Regions from separate parts of the Homo sapiens genome. Here all the other regions are linked to region 6. The links come from fine-mapping of genetic effects on gene expression. A gene starts in region 6. Each other region holds a variant in brackets. All regions are shown on one strand. Distances are from middle to middle. Region 1 has its middle 39 kb from the start of DMRTA1. Region 2 overlaps LINC01239 (long intergenic non-protein coding RNA 1239). Region 3 overlaps LINC01239 (long intergenic non-protein coding RNA 1239). Region 4 has its middle 92 kb from the start of LINC01239. Region 5 has its middle 54 kb from the start of DMRTA1. Region 6 holds the start of LINC01239 (long intergenic non-protein coding RNA 1239).

What was found.
Region 1: its variant is fine-mapped to the expression of LINC01239 in prostate (GTEx, PIP 0.95).
Region 2: its variant is fine-mapped to the expression of LINC01239 in subcutaneous fat (GTEx, PIP above 0.99). The same link has a PIP of 0.9 or more in aorta, atrial appendage, breast, esophagus muscle, gastroesophageal junction and minor salivary gland.
Region 3: its variant is fine-mapped to the expression of LINC01239 in tibial artery (GTEx, PIP 0.93).
Region 4: its variant is fine-mapped to the expression of LINC01239 in sun-exposed skin (GTEx, PIP 0.96).
Region 5: its variant is fine-mapped to the expression of LINC01239 in esophagus muscle (GTEx, PIP above 0.99).

The regions. Positions count from the first base shown.
Region 1 is chr9:22,483,429-22,488,507 of GRCh38, reverse strand. No RefSeq gene overlaps it. Among named protein-coding and RNA genes, the nearest start is that of DMRTA1, 39 kb to the right of the region's middle. RefSeq lists an enhancer at 4,357-4,984. The variant A/G (reference allele first, on the strand shown) is at 1,942.
Region 2 is chr9:22,764,451-22,769,529 of GRCh38, reverse strand. The region is part of intron 4 of LINC01239 (long intergenic non-protein coding RNA 1239); the gene reads right to left. Among named protein-coding and RNA genes, the nearest start is that of LINC01239, 120 kb to the right of the region's middle. The variant G/T (reference allele first, on the strand shown) is at 2,365.
Region 3 is chr9:22,667,739-22,672,817 of GRCh38, reverse strand. The region is part of intron 1 of LINC01239 (long intergenic non-protein coding RNA 1239); the gene reads right to left. LOC107987054 (LINE-1 retrotransposable element ORF2 protein-like) reads left to right here. Exons shown (of 3, transcript XR_001746635.2): 2 at 184-310. Among named protein-coding and RNA genes, the nearest start is that of LINC01239, 24 kb to the right of the region's middle. The variant G/AG (reference allele first, on the strand shown) is at 2,466.
Region 4 is chr9:22,551,581-22,556,659 of GRCh38, reverse strand. No RefSeq gene overlaps it. Among named protein-coding and RNA genes, the nearest start is that of LINC01239, 92 kb to the left of the region's middle. The variant T/C (reference allele first, on the strand shown) is at 2,931.
Region 5 is chr9:22,498,048-22,503,126 of GRCh38, reverse strand. No RefSeq gene overlaps it. Among named protein-coding and RNA genes, the nearest start is that of DMRTA1, 54 kb to the right of the region's middle. The variant G/C (reference allele first, on the strand shown) is at 2,119.
Region 6 is chr9:22,643,224-22,648,302 of GRCh38, reverse strand. LINC01239 (long intergenic non-protein coding RNA 1239) reads right to left here and starts at 2,103. Exons shown (of 6, transcript NR_038977.1): 1 at 2,007-2,103.

The DNA of each region.
Region 1 (5,079 bases), 160 kb after region 6:
ACCACAGTGAGATACCATCTCACACCAGTTAGAATGGCAATCATTAAAAAGTCAGGAAACAACAGGTGCTGGAGAGGATGTGGAGAAATAGGAACACTTTTACACTGTTGGTGGGACTGTAAACTAGTTCGACCATTGTGGAAGTCAGTGTGGCGATTCCTCAGGGATCTAGAACTAGAAATACCATTTGACCCAGCCATCCCATTACTGGGTATATGCACAAAGGACTATAAATCATGCTGCTATAAAGACACATGCACACGTATGTTTATTGCAGCACTATTCACAATAGCAAAGACTTGGAACCAACCCAAATGTCCAACAATGATAGACTGGATTAAGAAAATGTGGCACATATACACCATGGAATACTATGCAGCCATAAAAAATGATGAGTTCATGTCCTTTGTAGGGACATGGATGAAATTGGAAATCATCATTCTCAGTAAACTATCGCAAGAACAAAAAACCAAACACCGCATACTCTCACTCATAGGTGGGAATTGAACAATGAGAACACATGGACACAGGAAGGGCAACATCACACTCTGGGGACTATTGTGGGGTTAGGGGAGTGGGGAGGGATAGCTTTAGGAGATATACCTAATGCTAAATGACGAGTTAATGGGTGCAGCACACCAGCATGGCACATGTATACATATGTAACTAAGCTGCATATTGTGCACATGTACCCTAAAACTTAAAGTATAATAATAATAAAATAAGATAAAATAAATGGAAAAAAAGAAAAAAAAAGAAACAACAAGGAAAGGCAAGAGTGTTCACTGAAAAATAATTTGGAAATAGATTTTGAAGCTCTAAGTTATGGATTGAGAAGAACAAAGAAATGGGTAAATTAAAGATGTAATTGATAGGAAAAATAGAATCTAGGAACAGATTTGATAAAGAACGCAAAGACAAGAAAAGAAACCAAAATGACTTTGAATATTCCAGACTGACACACAAGGAAAAATTTTAAAAATCAGAGACAAAAGTAGAGAAACTGAGAAAAAGAACACTTTTACTGGAGGATTGAGAACACTTAGGAATGACCTACTTAGCTTGGGACTTACTGTATTTGAGAAGCTGCCACAATATCTGTTGACTTATTCTGAAGACAGTTTGAAAGCAAAGAACACTAGCACAAGTGATGACCAAGAACAGGAAAAAGCAACTTTAAAAACTAAGCATGTAATGATAATTAAAGACATGATAGGTTGGGTCACTTTGAAGAATAATTGGGAGGCTATACAGAGTTGGTAGAAATACTAGAAATAAGAGCAATTAAGAAATTAAGAAGTAATGTAAAATAATTTAGCATAGTTCCTGGTATATAGCTGATTCAATCTTTTGTTTGTCATTTCATCAGTTTTTTAAATACCTTCTACAGTAATATATAGGGCTAGGATTTAGTATCTGTGTGTAACAGATACCTTCAAAAAATCAATAGATGTTAGAACCTCTCAAGCATGCTTTAGAAAATGTAAACCATATTTTTGCATATTTCAGAGCATTTGATAGAATCCCGCTTTTGACCTCTTAACACCAACATTATCTTAGAATGATTATACCGGGAATAAAGAAGGATGAATAGAAGGAAATATCACTAAAGGTACAGCTGAGTACCAATGTGTAAACTGATGGCCATAACGAACATTTGCTTAAGACAACCAGATAAATACCTGTAACTTATAAGATGTACTCATCTGTATATAAGTGTTGGGCCCCTGCTTTCATGTTTCCTATCATCTTTGAAATCAGATATTTGTCATGCAATCCTCTGTGCATATCATTTGATAGGTATTTGTCCAACATCCTAAAACCAATAACATTGCCTAACAACACAGCAGCTGCAACACTAGTGTGTGTTTAGAGAACGCTGAACCCACCAGGATGAAACCAAGACTACCTAGCTGGATAGCTCCACCACATATTCTCACA[A/G]GTTTATAAATTTGACTTCATAATAGTTACAACAAAAATCATTCTGTTCCATTCAAAGTAAAAATGGCTGTAGCTCTTCATCAGCATCTTTGAAAGCCTAAGTCTGGCTTATATATTTATAGATGCAGACATTCTAATGTCATAGACTAAACTGGCTAAGTCACGTCAAGGAACTCTAGCTTTTGACATATGCAGAACCAATAAAGATCTGCTAAGTGCCGTTATCAAATGCAGTCCTATCAACATATTTAAATACTTGGCTTGGCATTCTGATAACAACTGTTGTACCTCTTAGCAGCTTGGTGAGTAAGTACCTCTATAATAAGCATTACAACAGAGAAGGAAACAAGTCCAGCGAAAAAAACAAATTTCTCCAAGACACCTTGAATGGTAAGCACAAGGCAAAAACATGTTTTCACTAACCTTTTCTGAAATCAAACCTCATATTTCTCCCATACCATTATCCTCTCCTTGCAACAGAATGCAAGGACATAAATAAGCAGAAATAGTCAGTGTGGTTTTTCTAGTGACTGTGATTTCCAAGGAAACCAAAATCTGCAAAGTTGCCCCTATTACCTTATATAACATACTTCCCTTCCATCCCCACTTGTCTCAGTCTCACCTTGTTATTTCCTTTTTAACACTTAATGTATAATTATTTTTCTTAGTACTTGTCACATACACTAGAACATAACATATCTGAAGGCAGAAGAGTATGTATCTACTTTAGTGCACTCACTTTACCTAGCTTTTAGCACAATGCCTAACATATAGTAGAGTTTCAATAAATATTTCTTAAATGTATAAAGAGTTTAAGTCTTTAATCCATCTTGAATTAATTTTTGTATAAGGTGTAAGGAAGGGATTCAGTTTCAGCTTTCTGCATATGGTTAGCCAGTTTTCCCAACACCATTTATTAAATAGGGAATCCTTTCCCCATTGCTAGTTTTTGTCAGGTTTGTCAAAAATCAGATGGTTGTAGATGTGTGGCGTTATTTCTGAGGCATCTGTTCTGTTCCGTTGGTCTATACATCTGTTTTGGTACCAGTACCATGTTGTTTTTGTTACTGTAGCCTTGTAGTATATTTTGAAGTCAGGTAGCATGATGCCTCCAGCTTTGTTCTTTTGGCTTAGGATTGACATGGCGATGCAGGCTCTTTTTTGGTTCCATATGAACTTTAAAGTGGTTTTTTCCAATTCTGTGAAGAAAGGCATTGGTAGCTTGATGGGGATGGCATTGAATCTATAAATTACCTTGGGCAGTATGGACATTTTCACGATATTGATTCTTCCTACCCATGAGCATGGAATGTTCTTCCATGTGTTTGTATCCTCTTTTATTTCATTGAGCAGTGGTTTGTAGTTCTCCTTGAAGAGGTCCTTCACGTCCCTTTTAAGTTGGATTCCTAGGTATTTGATTCTCTTTGAAGCAATTGTGAATGGGAGTTCATTCATGATTTGGCTCTCTGTTTGTCTGTTATTGGTGTATAAGAATGCTTGTGATTTTTGCCACTCCTATTCAACATAGTGTTGGAAGTTCTGGCCAGGGCAATCAGGCAGGAGAAGGAAATAAAGGGTATTCAATTAGGAAAAGAGGAAGTCAAATTGTCCCTGTTTGCAGATGACATGTTTGTATATCTAGAAAACCCCATCGTCTCAGCCTAAAATCTCCTTAAGCCGATAGGCAACTTCAGCAAAGTCTCAGGATACAAAATTAATGTGCTCTGAAGCTTTTTAATAAACTTTCACTCCTGCTCTAAAACTTGCCTTGGTCTGTCCTTCTGCCTTATGCCCTCCTTGGTCAAATTATTTCTTCTGAGGAGGCAAGAACTGAGGTTACTGCAGACCCATATGAATTTGCCACCAATAACAATAATACTAATTTACACAAGAAAATATGGTTTATTATACATCACTGATGAAAACAGGCACTCTTATTCATAACTTTCTTTACCATGCTTCAGGACAGAAGACAAATTTCAACGTATTTTAGCCCCGCATACTCTCTTCAAAAATCCAGTACTTCTGAAATAATATAATTGGGGAAGGTAAGGTAATACATAAAATAAACACCTTATAAGGACTTTACATCCAACTTTACAATTTATGCAACAACTCAGAGAAATTCTTTAGCCTCTCTGTGGCATCAAGAAAATAGAAGAAAAGTGTTCTCTCACCTGCTAAATATACCCCCTTGAGTATATAGCAAATAACATTTTGCATCTTGGAATATAGGCTGTTTATAAACATATAACAAGGATTATTAATGCTAAGTTTCTACTATTATGTAAAAAAAGGAAAGAAAAAAATGTCCGGACTGAAATTATCTATCATTCACACCATGGCAAGTAGTTATCACAGCCCATATGGAGTGAAGATTACCCAGAGCTGAAAGTTCCAAGAGAATGTGACAAGGTGACATACAGGAGTCAAGTGCTGTATGCTGGGTGCAGCTCATTTCTTAGAGGTGCAGAACTTATGATATGAAAAGGATATACAGAAGCCACCATGCCAACAGGGGTGAAAACTGGGGAATCAAACAAATGTTGCTGATTCAAAGTTGTTTTCCTATGATAACAAACAGCACCAAATGAGTTGCCATGGTGGAGAGCAAGCTGTGCTCAGAGACTAATTGCTGCACTTGTTAGAGTGTGCAAGAAGGTGTTTATCTGTTTTACATGTGTTTGGTGCCAAGACATCCTGGGGATCTGGAGCTGAAGCGGAAACAGAATGACAGTGTTTAGAAAACTAAACATAAAAACAAAAGGGAAGGAGAGCATTTTTTGTGAAAGTGACTTGAGCATTAAGCATATGAAAAGCTTGAGGCTTCTATCCTGGGTGATTAATTCTTCAGTCTCCTTCAGATCAACCTGTGGGAGCCCATGCTGGAATGGAGTGTATTAAGTCTGGTTCTTTGATGTTATTTTATTTACATGGTGAATTGTTCAAAGCAGGAAGGATCACTTTAAGTGCTACCAATAGAAGTAAAAGGGAATAAACTCAGGAAAAGGAAGGAAGTGAAGCACAAAATGTGGTTTTTCAAACAGTTCCACCTGAATGGCAAAGTTTAGAATATGTACTATGGGGAATTTGCCATACTGTGTCTTCTAGGCTTCAGAAATAATAAATGGATTTTGA
Region 2 (5,079 bases), 120 kb before region 6:
AAATAAGCTAACAGCATCCTTCTATTACAAACGCCTACTGTCCACAGGATAAAGCTTTGCCATAGCTTTATCCTACTTGGAGGAATGGGCTTACTCTCACTGCAACCCTCTTGAGCCTTCCTGTTTCATGCACAGTGAAAGAAGGAATTTAAGAAACACTTGTGAAGGTCAGAGCCAGGAGCACAGGCCCAATAAAATAGCAAAATTTAATTTTAATATTACAGAATGCTTCCTCTCCTTCACAACTTACCACCAAAAAAACAGGGCTCTAAAATAATACATTGTATTTCAGCTAAAAGAGTTGTGAGACAAAGATTATTTGAGGAGGAATACTGAGGGAAGCCCAAGTCAACCAGTGACACAAAAATAAGGTCACTGGAGAAATTTGAAACCTCTGACACCTGCAGACGCATACACATTAAGCACAGCCCATCAGATATTAAATACAGTTTAAAGCACCCAGATTAACAAAAACCTTTACACTAAACGTGTACTTCAGTTTTTATTACCTGATACATCATGTCTGACTTTAAACATGGCAAAAGGCAAGAACGAACAGATTCTGAAGAGAAAAAAAGTATCAAAACCAGATGCAGATATAAAGTTGACAATGAAATTATCAGAGAGGGGATTAAAATGAACTATAATTAATATATTAAAGGCTTTAATGGAAAAAGTAGAAAATTTTTTGTGAAGTTTATATGAGAAGATAAAAGACCTAGAATAAATAATCAACCTAATAATGAAGAAGAACAAATTTGGAGGACTGACACTACCAACAAAAGGAATCAGGGCTTCTTAGAGAAATATCTAATTCTAAGACGTGGGCAGTTAATATGCAAGATGAGTTTTTGGCATCTTATAGTGTTTGAAAATGAAGAAAAATTTAAAAAGTGAAACAAACATACTAAACACAATGATGTATTATGTCAAAGGGACTAAGAGTCACCTGAAAGAGCTCCCATTGTCCAAAGCTGGAAACATCTGAACAGTAAAATAAAAGGTGGTATTGTATTATAAGCCAAAGTATAAAGTACCCATGTAATTATCCATGAATCCATATTGATATGAATAAATGACTGAACAAATAGAGATGAATGTCAAATAATATATGTAGATACTCTACCTTCAAAGAGGTGAAGCATAAATCTTTATTACTCAATTGTGAATTATGCGTAGTGACTTGCTTCCAAATGGTGCTATATAACAAGGGAGGAAAAAGAATAACTTTACAGTAAGAAAATCTGCAATTGCTACCTCATCCAGGTAATCATGGTTTACATCTACAATGTTATGTACACTTGGCATACTGTGATAAAATAGCTTTTCCACGATGATTTACCTCCATGCCTTACTTCTGTGCCTTCCCTCCATGTATCCCCATCATCCCAGTCTAATTATAGGAAAGCATCATACAACTCTCATTGTGGGAAATACCTGACTGTACTCTAGAAAACTGTCAAGGTTATAAAAACATGATTATCAAAATTCTTGTCTGAGAGTGTCACAGCCAAGAGGAGCTTAAGAAGACATGATGACCAAAAGTAATTTGGTATTCAGATGAAATCCTGGAACAAAAAAGAACATTATGAACAAAATCTGAATAGAATATGGATGTATTTAATACTAATGTATAAATATTGCCTAATTAATTGTAACAAATTTACCACACTAATGTAAGATGTTAAAACAGGAAAAACCTGCATTTATGGGGGTAATGGCAACTCTGTACTCTCTTCACAATTTTTCTGTAAATCTAAAATGGCTCTAAAATTAACAGTTTATTTTGAAAAAGAGAGAACAGGTAAACTTATAAAGACAGGAACAAAACTAAAATTAATACAGACTGTTCATTAGACAGTAGGAAAAAATGCTTGAAGAGCTGAAAGAAGAAAACCATAAACTTAAAATTTTATATTCATCAAAAATGTACTCCAGATCCTTCCTATTACATATAGAAACACGACATAAATGTTAACTATCAGTCTTCCTATCAGCATTGTACTGATGAACTAACTCATCAAACAAAAAGAAATATGAGCTATTAGGTTGGGAAAGTGTGATAGATTGAATTTCAGCCCAAATTCTTTCTCCCCTCTTTATATCTGTTCTTTTCGTATACAAGTTTCAAGTACTGTCCAAGTCTGGGCAGGAAATTTTACTCAGCCCTTAATGTTGTGATTCATAGCTTTGGCCACGTGCTGTTTGTAAACAAGACACAAATAGAGACTTCGCACATACTTAGATAATTGGACTTGTTTACCTTTGCACCTCTACTTTCACCATGAGAACTTGCCCAAGTTATTCTGAAGAATGAATGTGGGACATATGGAGCTTCACTGCATAGCCAGCCAACTGTAGACA[G/T]AAAATGTAACTCAGGAAGACACAAACAAACAAACAAACAAAACACAAACCAAACAAACAAAAATCCCACCAAACCTAAATCTCTGATTTTCAAATTCACAATATGAATAATTATTAGAACAGTGAGTTTAAAGTCAACTTTCTACATAGTATTATTGTGGTAATACGTACTAATACAGAAAGAGTAAATTTTTATTCTAAGATGATATAATTTCATGTAGAAAATTCAAAATAATCTACAGACCATTATAATTCAAAAATGGATTAAAGAAGTTGGGTGGATCCAAGGTTAATGTAGAAAATTTATTTGTGTTTGTATATGCCAACAATAAACAATTATAAATAAAAATTTAAAATATGATTAATAATTTCATAAAAATTCACATAGTAATGATGCAGTAAAAGATATACAAGACTTTTATTCTAAAAATGTTGAAATGTTATTTGGAGAAACTAAAGAATACTTAAAACATTAGAAAGTTTATGAAAGTTCAATATTGTTAAGATGCCAAATTACTAAATATTGATCTATAAATTTAATATAGTTGCAATCAACATGTCAGCAATTTTTTTGGTGAAGATTGATGAGCTGATCATAAAACTTATATAGAAACAAAAGTTCCCCCAAAAAACGAAGACAATCTTAAATAGCAAAGAACAACATTAGAGGTCTTATATTCTCAAATTTCAAGACATGATAAAGTTATATTAATTGAGGAGTTAATTGTGCATTGTTAGACAAATAGACCAATGGACAGAAAAGAAAACCTAGAAATATACCCACATATTTCCAGTCACTCCAATATAGTCACCTAATTAGAGCAAAAGAGGATGGACTTTTCTGTAAGTGACAGTAGAATGTTTGGTTATCTATATGGAAAAATTATGAACCTTGAGATTTACTTCATACTATTCTTAAATATAAATGTGAATTTGATCTTAGACCTAAATCTAAAATTAAAGCAGTCAAACTTGTGTGGGGAAAAAAAAAAACAGAATATATTCCTGACTTAGGATTACGCAAAGGTTTCTTAAACAGGAAAAGCAATGACAACAAATATAAAACTCAACTGAATTACATTAAAATTAAAAACTTCTGTTTCTCAAAATCATGATTAAGAATTGAATAAGCAAGCCACAGACTGGAAAAAAATATTTACAATACAAGAATCTGGTAAAAGGCTTATATCCAGAATGCATAATACACTCCTACAAAACAATCAGGAAGAGGTAAACAATCCAAATTTTAAAATGGCAGAGATGATCAGGCAATTCACAAAGTAGCATATTCAAACCAAAGATATATGAAAAGGAACTCAACTACATTACTATCATTATTCATCAGGAAAATGCAAATTAAATTCAAACTAAGATTATAATTACACATTCACCGGAATGTTTAAGTAAAAAATAATGAATACTAAGTGTCAGTGAAAATGCGCAGAATTTTGCTGGTGGAAAGGAACATTTTTACAATCATTTTAGAAAACTCTTTGACACTATCTACTGAAATAAAACATAGACTACTATGTCACATAGCAATTCTTCTAAGTGCATACTCAGATAAATCTGGGCATATAATCACAAAGCACATGTACAATAACCTAATAGAGCTTAATTCATAACAGCTAACACTTAGAAGCAATGCAAATGTCCAACAGCAGAAAAGATAAACAAATTGTGGTATATTCATACAAAGTAACACTGAGCAATCATATTAAAAAGAACAAACTGCTGATATAATAAATAACTTAATAAATCTCTAAAACACTAGGTTGCACAAAGGAAGCCAGGCACAAATGAATATATATTTTATTATTACAACACTATGAATTTGAAAGTCAGGGCAAAATAACCTAATTGTATTTTGTCATCCTAACCTTATACAGGGAATCCAAATTCTCATAAATTCTTGTTCCTGGTAAATAGCCATCTAGCAAGTCCTGATCCTGATTCTCAGCCTCTATTAAGGTCCAGATCAGCAACTATCCTCATGGAAAAATGGTAAGAAATCTTCAGTTGCTTCACCACTCCCTGGAGAACTTTACACCCCTCCCTGTTTTTCCCATGGATTCTTCTTCTTTTTTTTTTCATATTTAATAAAATGTTTTATTTTAAAGTTAATTAATTCATTTAATTATTATACTTTAAGTTTTAGGGTACATGTGCACAACGTGCAGGTTTGTTACGTATGTATACATGTGCCATGATGGTGTGCTGCACCCATTAACTCGTCATTTAGCATTAGGTATATCTCCTAATGCTATCCCTCCCCCCTCCCCCAACCCCACAACAGTTCCCACTGTGTGATGTTCCCCTTCCTGTGTCCATGTTTCTCATTGTTCAATTCCCACCTATGAATGAGAACATGCAGTGTTTGGTTTTTTTGTCCTTGCGATAGTTTGCTGAGAATGATGGTCTCCAGCTTCATCCATGTCCCTACAAAGCACATGAACTCATCATTTTTTATGGCTGCATAGTATTCCATGGTGTATATGTGCCACATTTTCTTAATCCAGTCTATCATTGTTGGACATTTGGGTTGGTTCCAAGTCTTTGCTATTGTGAATAGTGCTGCAGTAAACATACATGTGCGTGTGTCTTTATAGCAGCATGATGATTTATAATCCTTTGGGTATATACCCAGTAATGGGATGGCTGGGTCAAATGGTATTTCTAGTTCTAGATCCCTGAGGAATCACTGTAAATGGGTCT
Region 3 (5,079 bases), 25 kb before region 6:
TGTATCCTTACCTTTGGAAATCACACTGTGTTTTCTTTGAAATAATAGGGAGGAATTTGTAAATCATACTGGTCTTTGGCAAATAAAAACCAACTATCTGATCGAGTGCAATTCAAAACATTAAAAAAAAAGTTTCTCTACAGTGCAGCCATCATTAATTCCCTGTTATTTACTGTTTTGTAGTATAAAGCCTTTCCATATCTGCAGTAAAGAAGGTAGTTTTACATAACAATGATGACTATGGGCACTGGAATTAGCAAGTCCTGGATTTGAACCTTGGCTTTGCCACTTACTAGCTGTGTGGTCCCAGGTAAGTTGACAAGTTTTGTAATCTCATTAAACTCATCCTGTTAATTGAAATAAGAACTTACGAACAATCACATGTAAAGCTCTTACCACAGGATTCACTATCAACTAAGTCCTGATGGCATTTGTTGTTTTCTATTGGCAGATAACCTCCATCCATTATGTAAATACTACATAAACATAGAAAGTTATTAGCAACTTATAAAATTAGTGAAGTAGTAACATTATATAACCATTGGTCTATAACCAAACTCAAATTTGAAGTAAAGTAATATCCCTGTTGGTATGCATTTACATAAAATCTGAATTGTACCCCAATGAAGAAGGCATAATAAGAGAATATCAACTGTGATAAGCCAGAGGTATCTAGAGGAATACTAATCACTATCTATGTAGTACGTTTCCTAGAGAAAACTTCGGCCTCTCTTCACAGAAACAGCAGGTACTTTTTAGCCATGTCAGTGTGTATCTATTTCTACAGCTTACAGATGTCAGTTGTATTATGATCTACATAAACTGTGAACTACTGATTTTAGACATTCTTTGGGAATTTTTAGAAACAGGAGAGTACTTAGCACACTGATCCAGACATCTCTCCTGAGAAAAGTGACAGGATCCACCATAAAATAGGGGCTGACATGCTTCTATAAGCAGTACCTTTCAAGTTGGCTTTTCCTGGTCAGTGCTATGCAGTTATACAGATTTAAGGTTAGCATGGATTTTCTTTCATTATTAGAATAGTTCACTCATATCATACAGCAAAGGCTTTTATTCTGCAAAACAGAGTCATACATCCTGAGAGATCTCAAGATATACAGACAGAGATAAATGTTAGTATTTTCATAAATAAAATTGTTCTTTTGCAATCATGAATACATCCATTCCTTTTGATTTTTTTTCTGAATTTCAAAATCAAAGATTAAGTCATTATTTAAAAACTCTCAAAACTCTGTGAATCATAGCTGTTAAGATGATGGGGTATAAAATTACAAAGCTTTAAAAGTGACAGTTTATTTTGATTTTATCATGATGTTAAGAAAGTAATTTTAAATGATAGTATACTTTGTCACTTTCCACGCAGGGGAATGAGGAAATATATACATACACAAGCACACACACACACACACACACACACACACACACGAAGTATATATATCCATAGTATACACATGGCAATATGTATGTGTTTTTGTGTGTTTGGGTGTATGTTTGAAGTGTTAAAAACACGAAAGGGTGGGTAAGGCGATGAAATTATTTACCTACTTTTTCTTTCACTGTAACCTTAAGCCAATGTCTGGGATTAAGATAAAATTTCAGATGCAATTAAGTAAGTTCACAATAGTATTGTTTTGTTTTTGCAATACCTAGAACCTCTTAGGATATAAAAAAATTAAAAATCTTTGGTTACAAACCTTGGTTTCAGAAATATTGCAATGTTATTATCTGGTTTTATTAATTTGTTCTCTGGTTTACAAACTTTTAATGAATAGTTATTAGGTTCTCAAATTTGTGCTAGGACTAGAGATAGAGAAATGTAAGATAAAAGACCTCTATCAGGTTGGTTTCAGTCTTCTGAGGTAAACAGAAGTAAGGAAGGGTCACCACAGATTATGGTAAGTGCCCAAATAAAAGTATGTGGATACTGATGAGAGACAGAGAAATGGTTACTTCCCCATACTGGGCTTTATGGAAAGCTTGAAGCTGACTTGAAGAATGAGTAGAAGTAAGTGACAAAGAGAAATAGAGAAGGGCCCTTCAAGCAGAGAAAAAAGCAAGTGGGAAGTTGCAAAAAGTAGCTGGCATTTAGGAAATAACCAAGAATTCAATATAGTAGAAAGAGGGAACATATGGGAAAGTCCTGAGAAATAAGACTGTGGAAATAGGAGAAATTTTTTCAAATGTTTCACAAACTTCTCTTCCTAGGATAGAACAAGAACACAGTTCTCCAGCACCGAGAAGCATTTTATGTGAGGCAGCATAGCTCAATAATTTATGAGTATGGACTTCAGAATCAAATAACCTTGATTGCAATCTTGGTTCTGTCACCTACTAGCTAAATTTTCTCGAGTAAATGCTTTTAACTCATTGTGTCTCACAAAATCATCTATAAAGTGAAGATTAACATAGCACCTACCTCCTGGTTTGTTGAAGATTAAAAA[G/AG]ACCTAATACATACAAAGCATTTAAAAGAGTGTCTGACATAATAAACTGTTTTCCTACTTTTATAAAGAGAACAAAGGAGACAGAGTTCACAGGAGGCAGGCCTGTTTCATCCAACTATGTTATGAGAAACAATTTTGTAGAGTCAAAATAGAAAGTGGGGCTTCTTGACATATTGATAAGGGAATGAAAAAGAACTCTGCTCAGAGGGAGGAGAACAACTAAAGCACCATTCATTGTTTACATGTTAGTGAAAATGAGCATGTAATGTCCATTCTTTGGAAAAGGAAATTATATGGAGAAAAGGTAGGGGAAATTAATAAACCTAAGCCATAAAATGGAAGAGGACATAGGAAGGACAAAATAGAAATCATGGTTAAGCCCTTCTTATTTTCCCAAAAAATCTGTTCAAGTTTTAAACCTGTGCATGCAGTCTTTATCTAGTATTTTATCAGACATAGGGTAGTAAAACCTCTTAAAAGCCTTCCTCAAACCCCAGAAGAATAGTTTTCCGAGGGGATTAATAGTGCTAACTGTGTATTGGTTTTGTTCTGAGATTGGGCAAGACAATAAAAGCACTTCATGGTAAAGGTGTAAATCTCTTTTCCAAACCATAAGGATTGAGAATCTTTGCTGCCACTATTAATTAGCGACTCTAAGATAGAAATATTCATATATTTTAACACACATATTTAACACAGATTATCTAATACTGCAAGTCAACTATGTCAGTAACTTCCCAGAGTTAGTGCAGATCCCACAGATCAAGGGCATAGTCCCCAACAAGACTGCTCTCATTTTAGATGCCAGAGGAAGAGGTCTAGGAGGGTCTTGAAGGCCCTCTCTCCATGGAATCAGGACCATGTCACCCTCCCAGCACATTGATGTGTCCCCAACCAAGAAGCTCATCTGAGCCCCAGTGTCCAGAGTTTTTACTGGAGTCTTGCTATGCAGTGCGATTGCACAGGATTTAACTCAATCTCCAATCCATCTCTCTTGCCCAGAGGTTGAACTGATATCATCTGGTTCAAAGCACCAACCTTCTAATTACATGGTTGGTTTTTCTGGCATAGTCTGCCTTCATGCTGAGCTATCTTGTTAACATAAGCTATCTAAAAGTCCACCATAAGTGACCTTATAAGCATAAACCCAGAGACTATCATGAACAACACAAATACTCCTCTCCCTTAAGAAATGTCTGGGGTTTAGAAGTTCTATCCCAGGAATCTGGGACAAAGACCAGAAAATTTTCTATTATTATACAATACACATACACACATGTGCACATATGTAAATACATGTATACACATGTGCACATATACATATTTATTTAAGTGTCAAGTAGCTAAATAATAGATATGTTACATATACTGTTGGAGATACTGAAAGAATAATAAACAACCTCTAAACTTATGAAACTTAGAGTTTGATTAATGAGCTGGAGGTGGATAGAATGGTACCAGAATATTTAGTACTGTCAGAATCCAGGAGGAAAAGACAGCAAAATGGAAAAGATCAAGAGAAATCCATCATGTGCCCACAAATAAAAACATTTTCCTTAACACCAATCTCATCATTTTCACTCTTTCTCTGGCACACTTAGGCAAAAAGAGAATGAGATCAGAATTCCATTTACCCAGTAGGTTTGCTGTCTTTAACTTAGCTTCTTTTTATACGATCAGTAAAATTATAACCCTTTGAAACAAAAAAATTTTGGTTCGCTTGGAAGCTTTTATTAAGATATAATTAATAGTTAGGAGAAATTTTACTAGGCATTTGGAATGAATTGAACTATTGCCTAATTATTATACTAAGAAATTCTTTTATAGAAAGAGACTTGGGCATCCAAATCATTTAGGAAACTAAAAAATACCATTTTAAATGAATTGTTGTGGTATTTATGTATTGAAGCTCTCCAAAAAATGTATAAACTGAAAACTATAAGCCTAAAATGAATATTTAAAACCCATTAGCACATTGTTCCTTGCTAATTGTACAATTTTGTATACAGTGAAAATTTAAAATACCTTAAGGGTTTCATGACATAAGCCATTTTGAATTTGAAATTTTGTTTTATTTCATTGCACTCTTAATTTACTGGTTAGTACTATGTTAATACAGTCATTTAACTTTCAACTTTCTTTTTTCTAAATTTCTTTTATTTTTAACTCCCCAAGAATCTTTAAAACGAACGATAGCGCATAGGCAAGGCACTCCAGCTCTACTTGTCTAACCCTAGATGAAAAAAGACATTAAGTAAAGAAAATAATCATTAAAGCATCTTTTACAGTTGGCTGAGGGACTGTTATGATTGGAATGGGAGGGACATTAACTTGCACATTACTCAAAGCAAAGTATAATAATATATTTTACAAGTTAAAGAGGCTTTGCATTGTAAAAGATAATTTTCAACAATATAGAGAAAAGAGCTGAGAAATTTCAGAATATCTTTCTATCTGAGTACACTCAATTTAAACACATTTGATCTCTAGTAGGTCTTAGGAGTTGGGTACAAATGTTCACTGTGAATGCAGAACCAACATGAATATGCCTCCACCATAACAGCACACTTCTGTTTATATGATCTACTTGGGTCCTTAGACCAGAAATCTTTTT
Region 4 (5,079 bases), 92 kb after region 6:
ATGACAGGCTGAAGCCTTAGACGATTGTTAGCATTTTTAGCAATAAAACATTTTAATTAAGATAGGTACATTATTTTTTCACATCTGATAGACTACATAAGTATAAACAAAACTTTTATATGTACTGGGAAACCAAAAATTTGTGTGACTTGCTTTATTTTTATATTTACTTCATCATTATAGTTTGAAACCAAACCCACAATATCTAGAGGTATACCTGTAATTATATTAACATTTATAATCTTAAATAAATTTCTTCAATAGCAACATGATTTTTAAAATACATCAGTTATATATTCGACTCACACAACCAGGAAAAGAATCATAGAGTTAAATAAGAATAAGAAAAGAAAAATATAATAAAAAACAAAGAAAAGAGAAATTGTTAAAGTTTTAATGAAACCTGTCTTAGTTGGCTTGGGCTGCTATAACAAAATACCACAAATTGGGTAGCTTATAAACAGCAGAAATGTATTTCTTACAGTTCTGAAGGGTGGAAATTCAACATTAGTTTGGCAGCATGGTTGGGCTCTTGTGAGGGCCTTCTTCTAAGTTGCAGACGGCCAGTGTCTCATTGTATCATCACATGGTGGAGAGTAGGGCAGAGAATGAAAGCACTGTCATGTGACTCTTATAGGCATTAATTTTATTCATGAGGACTCCACCTTTATGACCTCTCCTACTCCTAATTACATCTTGAAGGCCCCACCTCCTAATACCATTGCACTAGAGATTAGATCTCAACATATGAATTTTAGTGAGACACAAACATTCAGTCCATAAAATTGTTCTTTGAAATGATTAATAAGATAGACAAATCTCATGCAATTTGCATCAAGTTTGTAAAGGAAAGAAGAAACTAACAAATAATACTAAAGTATTGAGACAAAAATTTTCTGTAGCAGGACTGCTTTCTTCTTTATCATTTGATGCCCACCTATGTGGGGCCACCTTTCACTTTCAGACTTGGAGAAAAACAGCCCACCTACGGTTGGGTGCCTGGATTTCTGGGAGATTATTGAGAAGCTGGCTGATACAACTCAGAAGTGTGGTGTTGATAGCTCTCCCTCCTTTCTTTTCTATGGATTCCCCCATGGTAGGGTTCTTTTTTATGAACTTTCTGGAGAAGTATTGAGAGTTTAGACACCATCTAAGAAATATGCTATCTATAAGGTGATAGCCTGAGCTATATATCATGTTGGCGAGGCTGGACTTGATCTCCTGATCTCAGGTGATCTGCCTGCCTTGGCCTTTCAAAGTGCTGGGATTACAGGCATGAGCCAACATGCCCAGCCAAGCATAGCTCTTAATGGAGGACTGTTAAAGTACATTGTAAGAAAAGCATATGGGGTCAGAGATATGTTGCAGCCATCTTTGAAAAATAGAATCTGTCCCACAGACACTATCAATGTTCTTGAGGGTGTGACAAATCAGTTACTCTCATAAACTGCCAGTGATAATGCAGTTTGGTTCAGTGGCTCAGGAGGACAGTTTGGAACAACCAAAAGGCATATACCATGTAATATAGTATTTCCCCTACTATTTTCCCTATATACTTACATAAATTCTAATAAATACATTTATTAAAAATTGTGGTGTTTTATAAGGAAATAGTCTAAATTTTCCTCAATAGAGAAAGTATGATATCTAATATATATAGGCATATATATGAATATATATATATTTTTTCATTCACAGTTCGTAGCTCATAACTCTCATAACCATTGTTACAGTATTTTGTTATAATGTTGGGGCAATTTGGGCCTTAGAAGCGACCTCAGGAAACAAAATCTCTCTCTCTGACCCTCTCCTGTCCTTCTTTTACCTGCCCATGTCAGGACTTTAATCTGATTGTGGGTCATAAGACCCTCATTCCAGAGAGGGTCCTGCCCCATACTCTGGAAGAAGATATGTTGCACAAAGACTAAGAAGGACCTAACAGACACGACTTGCTGGGTTTAGATCATACCCTTTTCATCCAATTACATTTTGATGCAATTGTCCATGTTTCAGTGAACCAATTAAGTCTCCATAAAGACCCAAAGGACAGAGTTCGGCGATTCCAGAAAACTGACCGTGTGATTCCTCCAGATTCCTGGAGGATAGCATACCCAGGGAGGGCATGGAAGCTCCCTGCACCTTCCGCCATACCTTACCTTATGCATCTCTTTATCTGTAGTCTTTGTACTATCCTTTCTAATAAACTGGCAAAAATAAGTTTTTCCCTGAGTTCTGTGAGCTGCTCCAGCAAATTAATCAAACCCAAAGAGAAGGTCACAGAAACCACAAACTGAAGTTGGTCAATCGGAAGTTTCAGGGGCCCAGACTTGCGACTGGTATCTGGGGTAATGGGTCCGTCTTGGGGACTGAGCCTTAAACCTGTGGGATCTGACACTATCTCTAGGTAAAGTATCTGAATTGAATTGGAGGGCACCCAACTGGTGTCTGCTGCTTGGTATGTGAGGAAAAATCCCCACATATTTGGCCATAGAATTCTCCTTCTGTAATGATGATTGTTGTGTTGTGTGAGAGCAGAGGAAAACACAGTTTGAGAGAGTTTTGCCCTTCAGAGAAAGAAGGAAAATAAGACTTATATGTATGATTGAATATCATAAATTATTTTTTAAATAAACAGAAACTACACATACACACACAATGAATTGATCTCAAAACCAGTGTTGAGTAAGAAACTTTTGGACAAGCTCATTTGTATGACAACTGTTTGGCATATTATCTGCAGATGTATATATTAACCTAAGTTTGGAGAAAAAATTTTGACCTGGATTTCTGCCTTTAGATATATATCAGGGCAGATATCCCAAAAGACTCTCATTCTAAAATAATTTGAAGTATTGGCTAAAATATTGGAAAAAAATTAACTTGGAGCTTAGCTCTTAAGCAAAGGGATAAAACAAAGATAAAATTAATAA[T/C]ACCAGAATATTAACAATATTAATATCAGGATATTAACCTGATACTGAAACTGCAGCTGCAGTAAAGGTATTTGTTCATCTTGGTAACAACAGTCTTAAGAGAAAGTAAAAAGACAGTACCTAATAGAGAACAAACACATAATTCATTTTGAAGTCTCAAAAAGCAAAATCTACATAGACAGAGAACAAGAGTGCAGGGAGATACTGACTACAAAGCACACACAAATATAAATTTTAGGAAGGTAATAGAACTGTTCTATAGTTTGACGGTAGTAGCTACAAGGTACCTAGCATTTGGAAAAACACATAGAACTGTACACCAAAAGAGTAAATTTTACTAGGTGTAATTTTTTAAATAAATAAACATCAAAAAATTACTTGAGAAATTCTCAGTGTTTCTAAATTAAACAACACACTTGACAATAACCATTGGGTTAACAAAGAAATCATAAGTGAAATTTAGAAATATTTTCAATTGAATGATAAAATGTGAGATATCAAAATCTGTGAGATGCAGCTAAAGCAGTATTTAGAATATTTATTTATTCGTTTGTCTATTTATTTATTTATTGAGACAGGGTCTCCCTCTGTTTCCCAGGCTGCAGTGCATTGGCATGATCATGGATCACTGAAGCATCTAACTCCTGAAGTGAAAACATCCTCCCACCTCAGCCTCCTGCATAGCTGGAACCACATCTGGCTTACTTATGACTTTAAATGTGTGTATTAGAAGAAAAAAATATCTAAACTAAATTATCTAAGTGTCCATCGTAAGAAACTAGAAAATGAAGAGCAAATTAAACATTAATAAGTAGAAGTGGGGAAAAAGTAAAGATCAGAACTGAGACTAATGAAATAAAAAATGGAAAACCAATAAAAAAAATTATGACACAAAAAGCTGGTTCTTTCCTCACTAGATTAATCAAAATTACAAAAAACACCCATTTTACCAAAGGAAAAATATACCTCAATCATGTTGTTTAAAAAAAAAAAATTTAGCAAGCAGAACTTGGCAATATATAACTTGTAAATTCCACTGACTTTCCCCAGAATTGCAATGCTAGAAGGTAAAACAATCTTTATTCCCACAGAGACCAAAAATGTGTTTCATAAAATTCAAAACTATTCCTGATTTAAAAAATATTTTAAGCATGGGAATAAATAAATATTTCCTTAACTTTATCAAAAAAAAATCTGCCGAAACAAAAACCCTCGTCAATAGTGAATAAAATTCTAAGTATATTTACATTAATATTCACCTGGCAAAATGTATTCATCTTTCAAAATTCATCCTAGATATAACATCTCCAAATATTTTTGGCACGTCTTTTAACACTCTCCAATAATTTGCTATTTTCTCTATAATAATATCATCTTCTACTTAATTTCTACTTAAATTTGTTCATTTAAATGTCTTTCTTCTAAATTTGAATACAAATTCCTTAAAAACCAGAACTTTGTTTTATTCTTAATAATTTTGATTTCAAATGTTTATATAATTTTTAGCACACAGTGTTTAACATATGGTTCAGATTTTTAAAGTGTATATTATTTTCTTTACTTTTATATCCTGAAAGTTAATAATCATTCTTTTTATTGTAGATGTTTAATAACTTTAATAATTTGCTGAAAGTTAATTAAAAAGAAGAACTGAAACTCAATTTTAGATACCTACTCAACTCAAATGTTTTCACTTTAGTAACGCTATATTAGTTGCCATTGCCGCTATAACAAATATTAAACATTTCTTGGCTTGAAATTACACAAATTTATCATTTTACAGTTCTTCCCAGTGAGATCTATGTGGGATAGATCTGTCTAAAATCAAGGTGTTGGCAGAACTGCATTCTTTTCAGCAGACTTCAGGGGAGAATCTGTTTTCTTGACTTTCTGGGTTCTGCAGGCTGCATACCTTGCTTGGCTTGTGGCTGTCTTCCACTTCAAAGCAAGCAACTGTTGGTCATGTCTTTCTCACATAACAGCACTCTGATTCTGACTCTTCTGTCTCCTTCCTTCACTCTTAAGAACCTTTGTGATTGCATTGGAACCACACATATAATTCAGGATAAACTCTCCATTTTAATGTCAGCTGATTAGTAACCTCAATCCTCTCCTTCCCACGCAACATAACATATACACAGGTTCTGGG
Region 5 (5,079 bases), 150 kb after region 6:
AACACCGCATGTTCTCACTCATAGGTGGGAATTGAACAATGAGAACACATGGACACAGGAAGGGGAACATCACACTCTGGGGCCTGTTGTGGGGTGGGGGAAGGGGGGAGTGATAGCATTAGGAGATATACCTAATGTTAAATGATGAGTTAATGGTTGCAGCACACCAACATGGCACATGTATACATATGTAACAAACCTGCACGTTGTGCACATGTACCCTAAAACTTAAAGTATAATAAAAAATTTTTTTAAAAAAGTAAAATAAATGAAAATATTAAAAGGTTAGTTTGATCTTCAGTGAAGGAGATTGTCAAGACAGGAAAACTACAAGCCATAAAAGAATGGCTGATGGATGCACTCAATAAACATTTTTTAATATTTAAAAAAAAAGATTCAATGAGATCAGTTGTGTGTGGCCTCTATCAAAAGGTAAGCTCTCTATCACTGTTTTCTATTATTACCAGTATTATGACATATGTATATGAAAAAATTATTGGGCTATTGTGATGTTACTTGTTGAATTAAGCCAGCATCAACTTGCCAGCTTTATTAATGAGCCACCGTGAACTCTCCAACCCCAAATGAGTGATCCCAGCTGATACTATGTGTAACAGAAAAGATCTTTCTATACAGAGACTTGCCCAATGTTTAAATTAATGAACAAAATTAATTACTGTAATATTTTAAAGCCACCAAGTTTTATGCTGGTTTGCTACTTAGCAAAACAGAAGTATTAATATTTTGATACCAGAGATGAGATGCTGCCATAATAAAAGTTCAAATATGTGCCAATGGTTTTGGAACCAGTTAGTGAGCAGAAGCTGGAGGGGCCTTAAGAAGACTGCTAGTGAAAGCTTGAAAGGCCTCAACTTCAGGGATGTTATTTTTAAGGGCCTAAAGGGAAGTGGAAAAAATATCAAGGGAAGTAAGAGGAAATGAACCCTTTATAGAAAACTTCACAATGTCCACAGTAATGTGGAAAATAGGAAATATACAACATCTATTGAACTGAATAATCTAGCTATTGCAGAATATTGAAAGTACTACCTGGATTCTTTCTGCTGCCTATGATAAAATTCCAGAGGAAGGAGATGAATTAAAGAATAAACTGTTAAATATGAAAATATAAAGGAGTCAGGACATGCTGGATTAGAAAATGAAACTGTTTCTCATCCACAATTTCTCCCAACAGTGAATTATTCTCAAATTAGGAAAGGGCCTCAAACCAAAGATTGAATATCAGGAGGGACTGTAATATACTTTAAGATACTGTCACATAGCAGCATTCAGATAAACAAAAGCCCCTTTATGCATCTTAAGGACATGGTTACTGGCTCATATTCATTAAATAATAGGTATTCTAAGAATCTTCACAGCATTATCCCACAGCCCCCTCACAGAAAGCCCAAGGGAGAGAAAGGCTTATCTCAAAAAGATGGGTGGGAGTAGTTTTTGTCTAACAGAGTGAACCTTAGAAAGAGTTATAGAAAACCCACAACGTTTTTTAAAAGAATTGATCTGGCAGAAGCACCACCAATTTGGGCAACATGATACAGAGAAAGTTCAAAATGAAAATCGGTTTTTGGATGTCAAACATTATAGGCAGGAAGCAGGCTTAGAAGACAATTAAGTTGAAACTCATTTTTCTAAAAGAAAAAAAAAAGGATAATACAAATGGTGGAACAAAGTACCTAGAGGGCAGAACAAAGAGTCACAGAGAACAACCACCAAAGAATGAGTTAGCCCTAATTAGAGTGATATGGTTTGGCTGTGTCCCCACTCATATCTTACCTTAAATTGTAGTTCCCATAATCCCCACATGCGGAGGGAGGGACCCCGCGGGAGGTAAATGAATCATTGGGGAGGTTTCCCCACATTGTTCTCATGGTAGGAAATAAGTCTCACGAAATCTGATAGTTTTATAAGGGACTTCCCCCTTTGCTTGGCTCTCATTCTTCTCTCTCCTGCCACCTTGTGAGGGAAGACGTGTTTGCTTCCCCTTCCGCCATGATTGTAAGTTTCCTGAGGCCTCCACAGCCCTGCAGAACTATGAGTTAATTAAACCTCCTTCTTTATAAATTAACCAGTCTTGGGTATGTCCTTATAGCAGCATGA[G/C]AACAAACTAATACACAGAGATTCTGGTAATACGGATCCAGCTTAAACAGAGCTGCTATGGACCTGTTGTGAGCCTTCCGTTTTCCTGCTTTTGAAGAAGAGTGTCTATAGCAGTTATCATATGTATTAAAAGAGAGAATATACTGTATGTTTAGTTCAAAGATCTTCAGATCAAGAAGAAATATACTCAAGAGAATGTTCCTGTATTACTCCATTCTCACACTGCTACAAAGAAATACCCGAAACTGGGTAATTTATAAGGAGAAGGGGTTTAGTTGGCTCACAGTTCCATAGGATGTACAGGAAGCATGGCTGGGGAGGCTTCAGGAAACTTTCAATCATGGCAGAAGGGGAAGCAAGCATATCTTACATGACTGGAGCAAGAGGAAGAGAGTGAAGGGGGAGGTGCTACACAGCTTTAAATAATCAGACCTCGTGAGAACTCACTACCATGAGAATAGCAAGGGGGAAATCTGCCCCATGATCCAACCACCGCCTGTCAGGCCTCTCCTCTAACAACGGGGATTACAATTCAACAGGAGATTTGGGCAGGAACACAAATCCAAACCATATCAATTCCCAACGAATTGTGCTATCTCTGGTTTAAATATCAAGATCTTGGACTCTGAGACTGAAGTTCACGCCACAATGGGATAAGAAATTTAGAGTTCTTGGGGAATCGATGAATGCATTTGGCATATGGAAGGAATCTAAATTGTGTGGAGCACAGCAAATTGTATTTTCTGAAGATGGTTACAACATCACCTGTTCCACATACTCTTCTTGAGGTATGAAGAGTATGAAAAGGAGGATTATAAACTCCTTTACATGGAAGAGTTTATAATCCTCTCTTTCAACCCAGGTAGTCTTTTGTGATTATCTCAGTCAACATCATATGGTGGAAATGAAGCTGTATGATTTTTGATTAGTAAAGGCTAAAAAATGCCATGCTAACTCTTAAAATCTAACTACTATGTGTTAAGGGAACTCATGAGTCTGCAGAGAGGCACACATAGAGAAGACACAGGGTTCCTAGTCCCCAACCTTGACTGAGTTAGCAACCAGCAGTCTGCACCAACTTCCAAGCCATGTGAGTGAGCCATTTTGAAAGAAAACCCTTTAGCTTTCCAATCAAGCAATTTCAGCTGATGCTTCTTACAGCACAAGCCATCTTCTTCACAAAGAGTTACTCAGTTGGAGATTTCTGGGAAAACACCTGATTGCTATTGTTTCAAGATACTAGGTTTAGGATGATTTGTTTCAAATAAATCGGTTACTCATACAGATTTTTGGTAAATCATAGGTGAATTGTTGCCAAGTGAAAATTCTGGGATTTTATTTTACTCTTTTATCTATCTTATTTTTCCTCAAAAATTTTGTATTAAATTTCTAATTTCAAATGACAAAACTAAAACAGATCCACTTATTATATGACAAGAAAAAAATTTAAATAATTGCTGCTATTTACAAGTAAATGCATATAAGAAAACACTTTTTAAAATGAAATCTTACTACCTAATCCCAAATAAATATGCCCACTTTACTCACCTAGGGTAAAACTTGCAGTTTAAAATATGAACATGGAAGTTTTTTGCTTACTTGTCTTCTTTGAGCTTTTCTGTTTTGCCCTAATTTTGGTTTTGTTTGCAAAACAGCATTTACCTTCAATTTCTTTGACCAGTTAATCACATCCACTTGCCAAAAAAATGCTCATACAAACTACTAAATTTTAATCTAATTTACAAGTTTTTGTATTTGCAATTATCTGTAGGAAATAATGGTATATTTTTCGGTGCTATATATATAATTTGGCATTTTCCCCCTCTAATCAACATATTAATGTTGTCTACTTTAGACTTTATCTATTGAAATGTTTACATCATCAATTCAGAGGATTTGAGCCATATTAAAACTTTTTCTGCACTATATTGACTCACATAGGCTGTATGCTACTCAGTCAGCTTTGTCTATATATCTGGTCTGATATCTAAAATGTTTCTTCTTTTTGGCTTGGCATTTTCTTTGAAACTAACGTTTGCAGATACTGTGTTTGACCAATTTCATTTATACTAAGTCATCTGCAAGTAGACAATTACACGTTTTCTATTGATATCAACAGACTCCATTATACTAAAATGTTCCTTTTTTCTTTGAAGTATCATTTTTACAATAAAAAGTCAAACACATAAAGAAAAATAAGGAAGACTTTAAAAATGTAATAAATGTGCACTCATTGACAACAGCTATCATTTCTTGTGTATTATCTATAAGCCAGATATTTTATATATTTTGCAAAAATTTGATGTATACACATGAAATGAGAGAAAATATTTGCAAATCATATACTGATAAAGGGCTTAATATATAGAATATATAAAGATCTTCTACAACTCAACAACAACAATGAAAACTTCACTTAAAAATAAATGAAGACATTGTATTAATTTGATAGAGATGCCATTAACAAAGTACCACAGACTGGGTGGCTTAAGCAACAAATATTTCTCACTGTTCTGGAGGCTACAAGTCTGACAGCAAAGTATTGGCAAGGTAGATTTCTTCCGAGGCCACTCTCCTTGGCTTATAGATGGCCATATTCTCCCTCTGTCTTCACATCGTCTTTACTGTGTGTGCACACCTGGGTTCAAATTCCCTCTTCTTATAAGACAGCAGTCATATTGGATCAGGGGCCACCCTAATGATCTCATTTTAATGGAATTACATCTTTCAAGACATTATCTCCAGATACGGTTACATTTTGAGCTATTGGGGCTTTAATATGTGATTTTTGAGGGGACGCAATTTATCCCATGACAGACATGAATAGGCATTCTCCAAAGAAGATGTACAAATGGCCAATAGCATGTGAAAAGATGCTCAGTATCACTAATCATCAGGAATGCAAGTCAAACCTACAAGACATCACTTCACATCCTTTACAATGGCTAGTATATATTTTTT
Region 6 (5,079 bases):
TAACTCTCTTAAAATTAGTATTATTTTCTCTCTATCATATACACACACACTCAATATTTTACTATACCCAGCACTTTGGGAGGCCGAGGCGGGCGGATCACGAGGTCAGGAGATCCAGACCATCCTGGCTAACACGGTGAGACCCCGTCTCTACTAACAACAATACAAAAAATTAGCCAGGTGTGGTGGCGGGCGCCTGTAGTCCCAGCTACTCGGGAAGCTGAGGCAGGAGAATGGCGTGAACCTGGGAGGCTGAGCTTGTAGTGAGCCGAGATAGGGCCACTGCACTCCAGCATGGGCGACAGAGCAAGACTCTGTCATAAATAAATAAATAAATAAATAAATAAATAAATAAATAAATAAATTTTACTATAAAAGAAGACATTCCTGTGTGTGTATGCTAACATCAACTGATACTATTATTTGCACTTTGTCCACTTGAAATACTTTCGTATTATCACCAAACTCACTTTCAAATCCCTTTGTAAAGTACTGAAGAGAAAATTTAGAAAAGGGTATGAGAAAGCAATTCACATAAGAAAATAAACAGGTAATATAACGGAAGTAGTATCTATATTTGTGAGTCACAAAAATGAACTAGAAATCACAGTGAGATATCATTATTCACTTTACACAAATGAGAAGATAGAAATAAAAGCATCGGCTGGGCGCGGTGGCTCACGCCTGTAATCCCAGCACTTTGGGAGGCCGAGGCGGGTGGATCACAAGGTCAGGAGATCAAGATCATCCTGGCTAACACAGTGAAGCCCCGTCTCTACTAAAAATACAAAAATTAGCCGGGCGTGGTGGCGGGTGCCTGTAGTCCCAGCTACTCGGGAGGCTGAGGCAGGAGAATGGCGCTAACCCGGGAGGCGGAGCTTGCAGTGAGCCAAGATGGCACCACTGCACTCCAGCCTGGGCTACAGAGTGAGACTCCGTCTCAAAAAAAAAAAAAAAAAAAGAAAAGAAAAGAAAAGAAGTAAAAGCATCAATTTCACCACAAAAAATTAATTTGGAGGATAAAGTATAATATGAGAACCCACTGGCATGATAATAATCCAGGAATTATACAGACTTCCCCCTGTTAAAAGCAATGCTAAGCTAGATCATGTGTACCAATTTACAAAGGTAAAATCTTGCTCTCTGAGGGCAGCTGTCTTCTAAGACAAAAAGGGTGGAACTATTCGGAGCATGTCTAATTGATTTTTTCCAAATTTATTAATCAGAGTGAATCACTCCATCTTCTCTGGTAGATAGTGAATAGAAGAGCAGAGAGAGGCAAGGAGTGTAGCACACGGAAGACCACATTCACCTGGAAAGAAATATCAGGACTGAGGACAAGAATTCCTCTCCACACCTTCTCCCCACCCCATCACCCTGCCAAATTCCAGTACAAAATAGTTTCACTAGCTGGTCTATCATAGCTTTGGAAAATCCAATAGTAGAGATTCAGTTATTTGAATAGAGTTTCTTTTTTAATAACAAATGACCCCAGGAGGCAAAATACCGATAAATCCTATAACCTTTAGTATGTTATCAGAAACGAAAGTAGCCTTGAGAAAAGGAGAGATCAGACTGGAAAAAGGAAAACGGACTCAGAAACTTAGTTATCTCAGCTATGAAAATTAGGTAGTTGAACTCCTTGAAATACAGGGCTCCATCCAATACTATGTACCAATTGTGGGATAACTAGAAGTAAATACAGAGTTAAAACTGTAGTCTCAGTTGTTGTCGGTAATAACAGCAGAGATTGCAACCTAAAGGGAATGTGCAGCACGATCAGATGCACACAATCTATTTTCCACTTCTCTAGTGTGTCTCAGCTTGTTAAGGTTAAATACAGAATTTTTTTTCTATTTTGCTTTATCTGTCAGTATAAGATAATTAAAAAGAAGTGAACTTCCTTCATCCATTTATCTTGGATGGCATGCACACTTTATTCTGTTATCACCAAAAACATAAAACCTAGAGAAAATGCAAATTAAAATTTTTATAAATGTACATACCACATAGTTTTATAGACATCTATGTTCCACTCTTAAGCCAGGGTCAAAGTAGAATTCTCTTTGGTCTCTCTTCCCTTAGAGGAACAGAAAATAAAAGACCGAGAAAACAGACTGTGATGGAGGATTCATTATAAGCCAAAACCTGAATCACCATAATTACACACAGTTCATAAGTGCAAATCGTACCCATCTCTTGGCAGATTAAAAAGCCAAGTGATGAGTAATATTGCTGAGCTAAACATGCCTGTTTCATAAGCCACTCAAATCAACACTCCTGTTATCCCTTGACACACAGGCAAAAATTCTATCTGTAAGCCTAATAAAATCTCATTTGTTTTACCTGAAGGTCCTATGAACCACCTGGTGCCTCTCTTTGCACTTGTTTTTCTCTATTAACTTATGCTTTGTAGAAATTAAGGCTTTAATCTGATAATTCTTTCCACTAGCTTTTAATTATTAGGTTAATGTGTGAATTTGAAGCAAGCAGTCCAATATGAAACTATTAAGAAAAAAGTTGAAAATGCTGAATGATATTAGAAATTCTAGACGGTAAAATTTAGACAATAATTAGTCTTCTGATTTTTCCTAATGACAGTTTGTAGGAAATACAGGTTGAGCATCTCTAATCCAAAAGTTCAAAACTGGAAATGCTCCAAAATCTAAACTTTTTGATTGCTGACATGATGCCACAAGTGGAAAATTCCACACTTGATTTCATATGACAAATCTCAGTCAAAACACAGACAGAACTTTGTTTCAGGTACAAAGTTACGTAAAATATTATATAAAATTATCTTCAGTTTTGTGTATACAGTGTATATTAAACATAAATGAATTTTGTGTTTAGACTTGTGTCCCATCCTTAAGATGTCTCATTATGCATATGCAAATAAATATTCCCAAATCTGAAAAAAAAAAAATCTGAAATCTGAAACACTTTTGGTTCCAAGCATTTTGCATATGCGATAGTCAATCTATACTGTACAATGCTAGGTTATATTCACAAAAGAGTTGTTCACAACAGTCTCAACTTTTGATTAGAAAGTTGTTATTGCGGTAGCTAAATCTATAAACTTTTTAGCACATCAATATGGTAACTGCTACACATAAATATAAAATTTATTTTTAGCTTTAAGTTTAATGACTTCTCTTTAAAAAAAAAGCTAATAGTCAAATACAATGTATGTTTTCAAATTTAAAATATTTTTGCTTAAGAGTAAGATTTAAGCTTAGTGACGAGAAAAAACCTGAGACGTTTCTTGAGATATAAATATTGTAGCCTTTAATTATTAAGTGTTTTCAGAAGCAAAAATTAGCAGCCAACTATTTGCTAATAAAGAATTAAGTAACTTGTACTTTAAATACCTTATTGGTAAACTTACATCCTTTTTCTTGAAGAAATCAACCATACTAAGAAAAAAACTCACAGAAAGTTTTGTAAGTCAAGTAAAGGTTTGGTCTTAACACAGGCTCAGTTATGATGCCTCCACTGAAATTTGTTCAAGTGTGGCAGAATATGACAAAAATATTCCCAGTTTCTGTCGATGTATGAGCAGAGAAAGAAAAATGTCTATTGTTTGTCAAGTCACTAAAATTTCATGCTCCCTATTTTGTTCTTTTTATTTTTTCATTCTATGTTGCTCTGTCTCATCTGAGATTAGTGCCCTTATAAAAAGAGATATGAGAGGGCTTGCTTCTTTTGGCTTTCCTCCATGTGGGAATATAAGGGAAAAGCAGCCATCTGCAAACCAGGAAGCCAGCCTTCACCAGACACTAGATCTACTGACACCTTCATCTTGGACTTCCCAGCCTCCAGAACTGTGTGGTCACATAAGCTACCCAATGTATGGTGTATCTGTTTTAGCTGCTCAATCTAACACACATGGAGGAAAGCGGACAGGACACAAGCCCTCTCATATCTCTTTTTATAAGGGCATGAATCTCATTCCTAGGGTTCCACCCTCATGTCCTAATTACCTCCCAAAGGCTCCACCTATAAATACCATCATTTTAATGATTAAACTTCAACATACTAACTTGATTTGGGGGTAAGGGTATGCAGATATTCAATCCATAGCATCCTGCGACCTCCTCTTCTCTAACCCTCCACCAACCCTTGACAATCATGAGGAAACTGACACAAACTATATAACTATATGCTTATATTTTTTCTATCCCCATCTATTGCTGGATCATTTTCTATTACATCTTTGCCTTATTACATTCCAGAATATGAGTTTATCCACAGAGAGCTCATTGCTTCCTGAGACTGTTCAATTATGATTTAGACAACACTAATTACATTTCTTTTTAAAAATATTTTTTTCTGGTGTTGAACCAAAATCTTCATCCCTTAATTTTCCTCCATGGGTTCTAGTTCTGCCACCTGTTTTCTACATAGCAACTCTTTCAAAATATTAAACTTCAGATTTCACATGCTTCTGAGTTATTTGACTTTTCTCCATAACAAGTATCAACAGTTGTTTATGCCATTTCTCATATAAAGCACTCCTTGTAACTGAGGAACACTGTGGCTTCTACCCAAGGAGGAGAAACTATGCATATTTGAGTGGTGAAGAAACTGAAACTGAGTGTGAGAAATCCAGTTGATATAATAATCCTGAAAAAACATTAATGTTAAAAGCATGCATTCAAAGAAGATATTCTTAGGCAATTTTCTTTGAAGTCCATGTAGATTTCCTGCTTTTTTGAAAGTATTTAAAATCAGAGAATGTAATGAAAACACCTGGTTTCAAATGCCAGCTCCACAACAGCATAGGTTTGTGATGTTAGGCCAGCTTCTCTACTTCTCTGAGTATCATTATCTAAAAGTAGGGGAAAAGAGTCATTAATTTGAAGTTAAATGAGATAATATTAATACATTTAAAGTGCTTTAGTCAGTGGCGAGCTCATAATAATTCACTACATATTAGTTATGTTTTTATATTCACTGGAAAACAATCAATAGTTTTCTGTAAAGTTGATGGATTGCAAAATGGGGAGGAGGGAATCTACAGATTTCATCCTTTTAACTGGGAAAGATATTTAATACTGAGAATGGTAATAAATAGGT